2 separate regions of the Homo sapiens genome follow, and region 1 is linked to region 2. The links come from fine-mapping of genetic effects on gene expression. A gene starts in region 2. The other region holds a variant in brackets. All regions are shown on one strand. Distances are from middle to middle. Region 1 has its middle 12 kb from the start of ZNF44. Region 2 holds the start of ZNF823 (zinc finger protein 823).

Evidence for each region. PIP is the estimated chance that this variant, and not a neighbour inherited with it, causes the effect.
Region 1: its variant is the best candidate, but not a certain one, in a credible set for the expression of ZNF823 in monocytes after LPS (Fairfax 2014, PIP 0.61).

What each region holds. Positions count from the first base shown.
Region 1 is chr19:12,304,667-12,310,046 of GRCh38, reverse strand. No RefSeq gene overlaps it. Among named protein-coding and RNA genes, the nearest start is that of ZNF44, 12 kb to the right of the region's middle. The variant G/C (reference allele first, on the strand shown) is at 3,354.
Region 2 is chr19:11,736,171-11,741,550 of GRCh38, reverse strand. ZNF823 (zinc finger protein 823) reads left to right here and starts at 2,605. Exons shown (of 4, transcript NM_001080493.4): 1 at 2,605-2,734. The coding sequence starts at 2,732. RefSeq lists silencers at 2,427-2,621, 2,882-3,031 and enhancers at 2,632-2,711, 3,102-3,231.

The DNA.
Region 1 (5,380 bases), 570 kb before region 2:
TGGCTAACGCCTGTAATCTCAGCACTTTGGGAGGCCGAGGTGGGTAGATCACGAGGTCAGGAGTTCGAGACCAGCCTGGCCAACATGGTGAAACCCCGTCTCTACTAAAAATACAAAAATTAGCCGGGCGGAGTAGCGGGTGCCTGTACTCAGGAGGTTACTCGGGAGACTGAGGCAGGAGAATTGCTTGAACTCGGGAGGCGGAGATTGTGGTGAGCCGAGATAGTGCCACTGCACTCTAGCCTGGGTGACAGAGCAACACTCCGTCTCAAAAAAATAAAAAATAAAAAATAAAGAGTTTCCTAATGAAATGACTTAAATGTCACCTCCATGAATGTATATATACAAACTTTGCTGGATTGAAGTTTCTTCATCCCAACCCCTGCTGTCTAGAAATGCTATAAATGTAAGTAATTTAGGAAAATCTGATTAAAATTAAGACATGTATAATGCTCCAGAGAATTTGCAATAGGAAAGAAATGAAAACGTATAACTCTATTCTCTTTCTCTTTACCAGTGCCTCATTCTTAACATGAATCTACACTATGAATCCTACTTCTTACTTTCATACAAAAATTGATGTGAGATATTTTTGCAAGTTTTCTTCACATAAAGGTTCATAAGTCGAATAGTGTTTTCTTAATAGAAGCAGTTAATAAAATTTCTTTCCATTTTGTATTCTCTGGGATTCTTGAGTTGCTTGAAGTATATTTCTTTCTTTTTCTTTTCTTTTTTTTTTGAGACAGAGTCTCACTCTGTTGCCCAGGCTGGAGGGCAGTGGCGTGATCTCGGCTCACTGAAACCTCTGCCTCCCGGGTTCAAGCGATTCTCCTGCCTCAGCCTCCTGAGTAGCTGGGATTACAGGTGCCCGCCACCATGCCCAGCTCATTTTTGTATTTTTAGTAGAGACAAGATTTCACCATGTTGGCCAGGCTGGTCTTAAACTCGTGACCTCGGGTGATCCACCCGCTTCGGCCTCCCAAACTGTTGGGATTACAGGCGTGAGCCACCGTGCCCAGCATTGAAGTGTATTTCTAATAGACACTTAGGTTTAATTGCCTCTTCTTTTATTTTTCTGTTTAGAGATAGGGTCTCATTTTGTCTCACCAGGATAGAGTACAGTGGCATGATCATAGCTCACTGTAACCTCGAACCTGGGCTCAGGGCATCCTCTTGCCTCAGCCTCCCAAGTAACTGGAACTAGAGGCACACCCTGCCACGCCTTGCTAATATATATATACGTGTATATATATATACACACACATACATATATATATACATATATATATACACATACATATATATGTGTATATATATGTGTGTGTGTGTATATATATATATATATATATATATTTTTTTTTTTTTTTTTTTTTAGAGATGGGGGCCTCACTTTGTTGCCCAAGCTGGCCTCTAGCTCCTGGCCTCAAGCGATCCTCCAACCTAAGCCTCTGAAAGTGCTGGGATTGCAAGTGTGAGCCACTGTGCCCAGAAATATGTTTAATTCTTAGATGGTTTTAAAATTGCTGTATAGCTAAAGAGCTTATGAAACATGACATTTTGGTGTTTGTTGTGACTTTACCACTGGCCTCTTGGAGCAAAGAAAACCCTTCTTCTCCATCACTTTCAGCCCATCCCCGAGCAGTATGGGCTGGCTGGCAAGGAGGACCCACATACTTTTGCTGCCTGCTGGTGCACACGCTTCCCTGAATACCAAACTCCCAGACTGAGCACATGGGTGGCCATGTGCAAGCGCTACAGCCTCAGCACATTGCTGAGCACACATGCATCCTCCTGATCAGTTCCCGTGAGTGGCCATTCCTGCACTTCAAGAGCAGTGGGCCAGGACATAGCAGTGCTGGGAAGGCGGCCTCGCCCTCGCCACATCATCTTCTTAAGGATGTCTCACTTGTCTCCTCTCCCAGTTCCAGCCCCAGCCCCAGCCCCTTGCTGCCCCCACCTGAGATGTTCTGTTAATTCAAATACCCTAGTGGTGAGGAATATGCAATACCCTTATGGCTGGGTCAGGTTAAGGGGGAAACTTGTAAGACGCACTTCTGAAATTTCACGGGGAACTATAGATCCTCAAATTCAGCTTCTGGCTCAGCAGATTAGGGACAGAGTGTGAGAGTCCACGTTTCTAACTCGCTCCCACGTGTCATCGTGTTGGTCCATGGAACATAGAGTGCTCAGGTAATAAAAGACGTGGTTAGATAGGCAGTAAAGTTACACTTTTATAGGATAAGTTACGCTTTTAAAGATAGGTTACACTTTTATAGTTTTTTTTTTTTTTTGAGACAGAGTCTTGCTCTGTCGTCCAGGCTGGAGTACAATGGCACGATCTCGGCTCACTGCAACCTCTGCCTCCCGGGTTCAAGTGATTCTCCTGCTTTAGTTTCCCGAGTAGCTGGGACTACAGGTGCCTGCCACCATGCCCAGCTAATTTTTGTATTTTTGGTAGAGACGGGGTTTTACCATATTGGCCAGGCTGGTCTCAAACTCCTGACCTTGTGATCCACCAACCTTGGCCTCCTAAAGTGCTGGGATTATAGGCGTGAGCCATCGCGCCCGGCCGTTTATGGGATTTTGAGCAGAGAAGTGATGTTTGGTTTGTGTTTGAAGAAGCTTACTCCTGCTGGTGGGCAGAGAATAGATGGTAGAGGGGACCTGGGAGACCAGCTTAAAAGCCATAGTTGTAGTTTGAAGAGAGGCTGTGCTGGCGTGGGTTTGGGTAATATTAGTGGATATCGACAGAAGGTTGTGTATTGAGAAGTCTAGTTATGAACCCAAGCTGTGTTTTTGGAGCCGGGTTCCAGGGTGGGGAAAGGCCCCATCAATCCCACTGTTTAGCAGTTCTGGACATAAACAAAGGATCAGTGGTGATCGTCTTCAGCGCAGTAGAGAAGAGTGTGTGGCTCTAAAATATGATGGTGGAGAGGGTTCTCACACTAGTCTGAGAGACTAAGGGAGGCTTCCCCAGTGAGACTAATTCTCAAAGCCTGAAGGTGGCCAGGCGCAGTGGCTTACGCCTGTAATTCCAACACTTTTGGAGGCTGAGGTGGGCTGATCACTTGAGGTCAGGAATTCCAGACTAGACCAACCTGGCCAACATGGTGAAACTCTGCCTCTACTAAAAAACACAAAAATTAGCCAGGTATGGTGGCACATGCTTGTAATCCCAGCTACATGGGAGGCTGAGGCAGGAGAATTGCTTGAATCTGGGAGGCAGAGGTTGCAGTGAGCCGAGATCACGCCACTGGACTCCAGCCTGGGCGACAGAGCAAGACTCGTCTCAAAAAAAACAAAAAAAAATTCCTGAAGGTTGACTAGGAGTTACACAGGCAGGGGCAGCTCCC[G/C]TAGGATTTCTGATGGAGTGAAGGAGAGAAGAGAGGCAAGGATGAATCCTATTTTCAGAGCCCCTGGGTGCTTCCCCTCACTCAGAGGACCAAGGCCAGGGGAGATGATTGGAGGGGAAATGAAGGGTTATGTTTTGTAATCACTCATGGCATGTTTGAGTCAAACAAGCGAAGTGTTGACCAGGGTATTGGATCTGGAGCCTGAGAGAAAGATCTAAATGAAATTTGGAAAACATTATCATATGGATGCTATTTGATGCCCTGGGTCCAGCAGAAGCCACCTTGTTTCAGGGTAAGGGGCAAAGTGTAGCAGAAGACAAGTGCTCAGGAGGAGACCAATGGCTGTCCACCTCTGAGGTTAGCAGGAGGAGCAGCCTGCAAGAGACTGGGCAGGCCAGTGACTTAGGAGGAGAATGAATTGGGTGTCCCTTCCTGGAATCCTCCAGGAGAAGGTATTTCAAGATGGGAGAGTGGTCACCTATGTCACAGGCCACAGAGAGTTTGAATGAAACAAAACTGGATTGACGGGCGCAGTGGCTCATGCCTGTAATCCCAGCATTTTGTGAGGCCGAGGCGGGCAGATCACTTGTGGTCAGGAGTTCAAAACCAGCCTGGCCAACATGGTGAAACCCCATCTCTACTAAAATATACAAAAATTAGCCAGGTGTGGTGGCAGGCGACTTAATCCCAGTTACTTGGGAGGCAGAGGCAGGAGAATCATTTGAACCCAGGAGGCAGAGGTTGCAGTGAGCCAAGATCGAGCCATTGCACTCAAACCTGGGGGATAAGAGTGAGACTTCTCTCAAAAAAAAAAAAAAAAAAAAAAAAACAGAAAAAAACCCGGATCAACGGCAGCTTTTGGCAAGCATTTGATCACTTTAGGCTTTGATAAGAGCTGATTCTTTATTCAGGGGAATAACTTGTATTGAAATGTATTTCAGGCTGGGCACGGTGCCTCATACCTGTAGTCCCAGCACTTTGGGAGGCTGAGGCGGGCAGATCGCTTGAGGCCAGGAGTTTGAGACCAGCCTGGCCAACGTGGCAAAACCTCATCTCTTCTAAAAATACAAAAAATTAGCCAGTGTGGTGGCGCATGCCTGTAATCCCAGCTACTCAAGAGGCTGAGGTGGGAGAATCTCTTGAACCCAGGAGGCAGAGGGTGCAATGAGCTGAGATCGCACCACTACACTCCAGCCTGGGCAGCACAGCAAGACTCTGTCTCAAAAAGAAAAAAGAAAAGTCAAGAAGTGTATTTCAAATAGATCTTCAAGATGTTGCCTAGGGCAGGGGTCCCTAACCCCTGGGCAACGGATCAGTAATAGGTCCATGGCCTGTTAGGAACTGGGCCACTCACGTTACTGCCGGAACTCTGCCTCCTGTCACATCAGCAGTAGCATTAGATTCTCATAGGAGCACGAACCCTGTTGTGAACTGTGCATGTGAGGGATTTAGGTTGCACGCCCCTTATGAGAATCTAATGCCTGATGATCTGTCAGTGTCTCCCGTCACCTCCAGATGAGACCATCTAGTTGTAGGAAAACAAGCTCAGGGCTCTCACTGATTCTACATTATGGTGAGTTGTATAATTATTTCATCATATATTACAATGTAATAATAATAGAAATAAAGTGCACAATAGATTTAATGCAGCTGAATCCTCCCAAAACCGCACCCCTCCCCCGCAGTCTGTGGAAAAGTTGTCTTCCATGAAACTGCTCCCTGCTACCAAAAAGGTTGGGGACCACTGTCCTAGGGGGCAGTGATACCCTTGGAGCTGCCAAGTTTAACCACTGGATTTCTTTTCTAGTTTCACAGAGGAATCACCATTACTGACTTTTTTCATCATGGTAATGTGAACGTCTATTTTTGTCTGAAAGTTTTTATATGTATTTAAATCAACACGGTAATTGACGACTTAATTGCTGCAGTTTGTAAAAACATACAAAGTCTGTAAGTGAACCCCTGACACCCACTTAGTTCGACACACTACACCCCCTTCTTTTTCTTTTTTTCTTTTTTTCTTTTTG
Region 2 (5,380 bases):
GTTCATTATAGCAGCACAAATGGACTAAGACACTCTTCATGGATAGTTAATTAATCTTCAACAAATAGGCCAAGATAAATTAAAGGGGAAAGTCTTTTCAACAAGCTACTAAGGAAGTTGAATATTGACCTTCAGAAACACGAACTGAGCTCCTTACTGCATGCATTAAAGTTAACTCACACTGAAATGGTACATTTAGCAGCAGATATTAGAGGATATCTTCGTGACAGAGGGTTGGGGAAGGAGTTGTGTTTCCTTTTCTTTTAAAAAACTCAGAAATAGCCGGGTGCAGTGGCTCACAACTGTCATCCCAGCACTTTGGGTGGCCGAGGCAGGCAGATCACCTGAGGTCAGGAGTTTGAGACCAGCCTGACCAATATGGAGAAACCCTGTCTCTACTAAAAATATAAAATTAGCCAGATGTGGTGGCGCATGCCTGCAATCCCAGCTACTCAGGAGGCTGAGGTGGGAGAATTGCTTGAACCCGGAGGCAGAGGTTGCGGTGAGCCGAGATTGCACCATTGCACTTCAGTCTGGGCAACAGGAGCAAAACTCCATCTCAGAAAAAAAAAAAAGACAAACTCAGAAATAAACATCCTAACTCAGAAAAGCATGGTGTTGCCATAGAACTGACTGTGAGGAAACTAACAGCAATACTTTCTATATTGTGTTTAAACTTGCACATACAAATTTTGGGCTTTCTAGCTTCTCTTAGGATTTCTTTTATACTTTCTCTGGGGGAGGGGGTGTGGGTCTCACCATTGTTGATTTTTCCTTCATCATGGTAATGCGAACAGCTATTTTTGTCTGGAAGCTTTTATATGTATTTAAATCATTGCAGAAATCAACTACTTACTTGTTGCCATTTGTAAAAATATACAGAATCTGTATATAAACCCCTGACAATCAGTTAGTTTGATACATTGTGCCCTCTTTTAATATGTGTGGAAACAAATAAATAGAACATTGTTCCAGGAGCAGTTAATGTGAGGAGTGAGGGGTGGAGCATTTCATAAAATAGTAGTTTATCCTTCAGAGAGCAGTTTCTAGCATAATAGACTGTGGGAGTGTGTGTGTGTGTGTCTGTGTGTGTGCTTATTATTTTTTTTTAAGGAAACAGTATCATTTATGCATTAGGTTATACTCAGACGTCATTTTTTTCATTCATTTTCTAAACGTGCCCATTTGTCCTGGCAGAAAATGCTATAGTTTCTAGAAGTTGATTGAAGATTTCATTTCATCTATTGACATCTCATGTTCAGCTCCTTTCTATTTAGCCATGGCTACCAGCTTCTAGTTCATAACGCTTTTTTTTTTTTTTTTTTGAGATGGAGTTTTTTTTTTTCCTCGCTCTGTTGCCCAGGCTGGAGTGCAGTGGTGTGATGTCGGCTCACTGCAACCTCTGCCTGCCGGGTTCAAGCGATACTCCTGCCTCAGCTTCCTGAGGAGCCGGGATTACAGGAGCGTGCCACCACACCCGGCTAATTTTGCGTTTTTAGTAGAAACGGGGTTTCATCATGTTTGTCAGGCTGGTCTCAAACTCCCGACCTCAGGTGATCCACCCGCCTCAGCCTCCCAAAGTGCTGGGATTACAGGCGTGAGCCACCGCGCCCGGCCATAACGCTTTTAAGTCTAGTATTTTTACTTCATAAACATATGGAGAAAGGCTAATGTTTTCAAATTCAAAGTGTGATGTCTTGGCTTTTGATTGGAGCGTTTAATTCATTAACATTTAATGGCATAAGGAGGGAGCATTTCCACGCTGTGCAGAGGGGACAGGTATTTTGAGACCTCAGAGTAAAATTCTTAATTGTCCCTCCCTTATCACCAGCTTCTGATCCACCCCGGAGCTCCATTTTAGGAATCATTGCCTGGCTTCCCAGCTTGGGGATATGTTTGACCTCCTGAAAGGGGGTCTGCTTGTGAACTGTGAGTGCAGTAGGCTGCTTCTCTGAGCTTGTTCAAGTTTTTGCTTTTCTTCTCTTTTGATTCTTTATGAAATATTGCTGCCATATAATTCCAGTTTTTCCACATACTCAACTATTTTATTTTGTTGTCCTGTTTTTATCTTCTGGGCTGAAAATGAGTAGATTGAGAGATAAGGTGAGGGAAAGGCTTGGCAACGTCGCCAACAGCCTCATCCCAAATTCCTGATCCCTGGAGGACATCAGGCCCTCCCTCCTGCTGCAGGGTGGCCTGTGTGCCCCGGGCTCCCCTCCTGCTCCGAGGTCCGGGAATGGCTCCACTGGACAGGGAGCCTGGAATTCCCTGCACACACTTGTGAGTCCCTGTCCAGGAGGAAAAAGCAGGAAGAACCCACTGAATACAATCAGGAAATTCTAAAATGCAAACGTCACTTCGGGAGGGGTCAGGTCACTCCGTTGGGAGGAAGCCCGCCTTGCCAAGGGTCGTGCCTGGAACCTGTTCATCCGGCTCCACTCAGCACTGTGAGATCGCTTCTTCTGTCAATCAGCCACCAAGGGGCGGGACCTGGAGCACTATCCAATCAGGGATGAGGGGGCGGGGATTGTGAGAACTGTCAATCAGGCACGCTGCAGGGAGGAGGGTGCGACGTTCAAAGAGCCCGCGGAGTCTTCTCCACGCCCCTGCGCTCTGAGTCCTGGCTCTGGCGCTGAGAGAGAGACGCCCTGGAAGGTCTGTATCAGCGTCTGTCGCGCTGGGACCCACACTGGCTTTTAAGGAGGACACCCGGACACCTGGAAGCTGGGAAATGGTGAGTGTGCGGGGCCCGGCGTCCCGAGGCAAAGAAGGGGCAGGTTGGAACCGGCCGGAACCGACCGTGAGGGGACCCGGGCCTCGCCCTGGGCGACTCCGGGGTCTGCAAATCCCAGTGCCCCTGGCGCAGCTCTGCCCTTGGTCCCCTGGGCCGCAAGATGGGGCTGGGGCGGCAGCCGGGACCCCGGGCGTCCTGTCCCGTCCCTGCTCGGCCGCTGCGGCCCCGGCCCCGGCGCCCTCTCTGGGCAGCTCCGCGCCCGCAGCTCCGCGTCTCCCCAGATTGTGCAGTTGTAACCGGCACAGGTTCACGGCCCGAGTCACTGCACCGAGACGCCGAAGGCTGCAGCAGAAACAGTTTAATGGGGGAGAGGGGAGGACACCCCAGATCCGCCTCCCTGAGAGGTTTGGGGATGGGGTGTTTAGAGGTGTGGACAGGGACGGCTGGAGTGTGGGGTCGCTGGTTGGTGGAGAAGTGAGAGGTGACTCCTGGGACTGGAGGTGAAGAAACCGCATTCTGCTGAGTGGGTTCCCTTGTGGGGTCTTCAGCCTGGTTGGCGCCAGCCTTTCCGCTGCAATTCAGGATCCGAGAAAGAACTGAGGCGACCCGTGAGCAACTCTCAAGAGATCTTATCCCCGGGCACGATGAGGAAGCCGGCGGTCAGCGTCTGCTGTGACCTGACTCTCAGGGAGGCGGCCCCGTGAGGCAGCGGGGCTGAGGGCACCTGGTTAATATCTAACTGCAATCTCGCCTCCAGCCTGGCTCGCAGTTCCTGTGAACCCGGTGAGGACGCTGCACGGTGACAACGGAGGGTCACCAGGCAGAATCCAGACTCGTGTGTGTGGGCTTTGTGCTTTGGAAGAGAAGCTGTGATCTGTGGGTTCCCCAGTCCCTTCTTTCTTCCCAAAGGTGACCGGTTTCCCTCCGAGTCTTCCAAAGATGTGGGCAGCAGGGTCTCAAATCCACCACCCTATCCCCTCATCCTAACTCCTCCTAGGGCTGGCAGCAAATCTCTTGGTTTTCAGAGCCTTCCCCAGGCTAACTGTCTCTCATCAATTCCCAGCAACTTTATGAACTCTTTGTCCCTCAGGCAATATTTCAAACAGAGGCATTATTTTAATTGTCACTTTCTTTTCACATAGCAATGTATGGCTCTTTTTAAAAGATGTGTTTTTGTGTTTGTGAACATTTCACATGTGAGGAAGCAAAGAATAACCACTTGACTCCAGTGTGAAAAAAAAAAAAAAAAAAAAAAAGCCGGGCGCGGTGGCTCACGCCTGTAATCCCAGCACTTTGGGAGGCTAAGGCTGGCGGATCACCTGAGGTCGGGAGTTCGAGACCAGCCTGACCAACATGGAGGAACTCCGTCTCTACTAAAAATACAAAATTAGCCGGGGTGGTGGCTCATGCCTGTAATCCCAGCTACTTGGGAGGCTGAGGGAGGAGAATTGCTTGAACCCGGTAGGCGGAGGTTGCGGTGAGCCAAGATCACGCCATTGCACTCCAGCCTGGGCAACAAGAGTGAAACTCCGTCTCAGAAAAAAGAAAAAGAAAAAAAAAATAGTGCATGTGTGGCTGTCCTTTATCTTGTCTACACAGAGATACCCGAATATTTTCAGTCGAGGTTCCTCTTTGCAAATGGCACAGGGTGATCTGTCAGCCCACCCTCTATGGTGTCCTGGTCCTGGGTTACAGAACTGTTTGGGGCTGCTCCAAGATGCTCATAGCTGCTAAGTCTTTTGTAGTGTCTAGTGAATATCAGCTTTGAGTCACTCCTCCCAGAGGACAGCCAGAGGTGGGGGGTGGGACCTTATAGGGGAGCAGCTGGATGTCGTGGGGTGGGAGGAGTTTCCTGGTATACTGTTCCTCAAAAAGCAAAGCCCTTAAGACATTCAGCTTTTCTTCCCCACCCCAGTTTCCATTCCCTGGGGACACATGGCTGATGAGCCAGCTGGTTGGCGGTATTGAGGGAGCTTCTCCTTGGAGGGTAATTACTCAGCAGTTCAGTGAGCAGCACTGGGGTGGGAGATGTCCCAAGTGATAAGAGGACCTGAACTGACACTAAAGTAGTCAGATTTGTCTGTGTTCCAGTCAGCCCCTCCCTGCATTTGTCATCTTGAAAAGATTTGTTCACTCATTTCAGCTTTTTATTAACTGCAAAATGCATTTTATCATTAGAGCTTAATAAAGAAGATAAAGTATGTTCAAAGAGACAAGAACAAGTTGGGTTTCAGCAAACTCATTACATATTTAGTCCTATATTTTATTTCTTTTTAAAACTTTTATTTACTTTTTTTTGAGACGGAGTCTCGCTCTGTCACCCAGGCTGGAGTGCAGTGGTGGGATCTTGGCTCACTGCAGCCTCAACCTCCTGGGTTCAAGCAATCATCCCACCTCAGCCTCCTGAGTAGCTAGGATTACAGACGTATGCTACCATGCCCAGCTAAAACTTTTGTATTTTTAGTAGAGACGAGGTTTCACCATATTGGCCAGGCTGGTCTCGAACTCCTGACCTCAAGTGATCCACCTGCCTTGGCCTCCCAAACTGCTGGGATTATAGGAGAGAGCCACCGTGCCCAGCCTCAGGTCTGTTTTTTTATTGGATGATTTCAAACGGAATTTCAGGGCCTAGCAGTGAACAGAAAT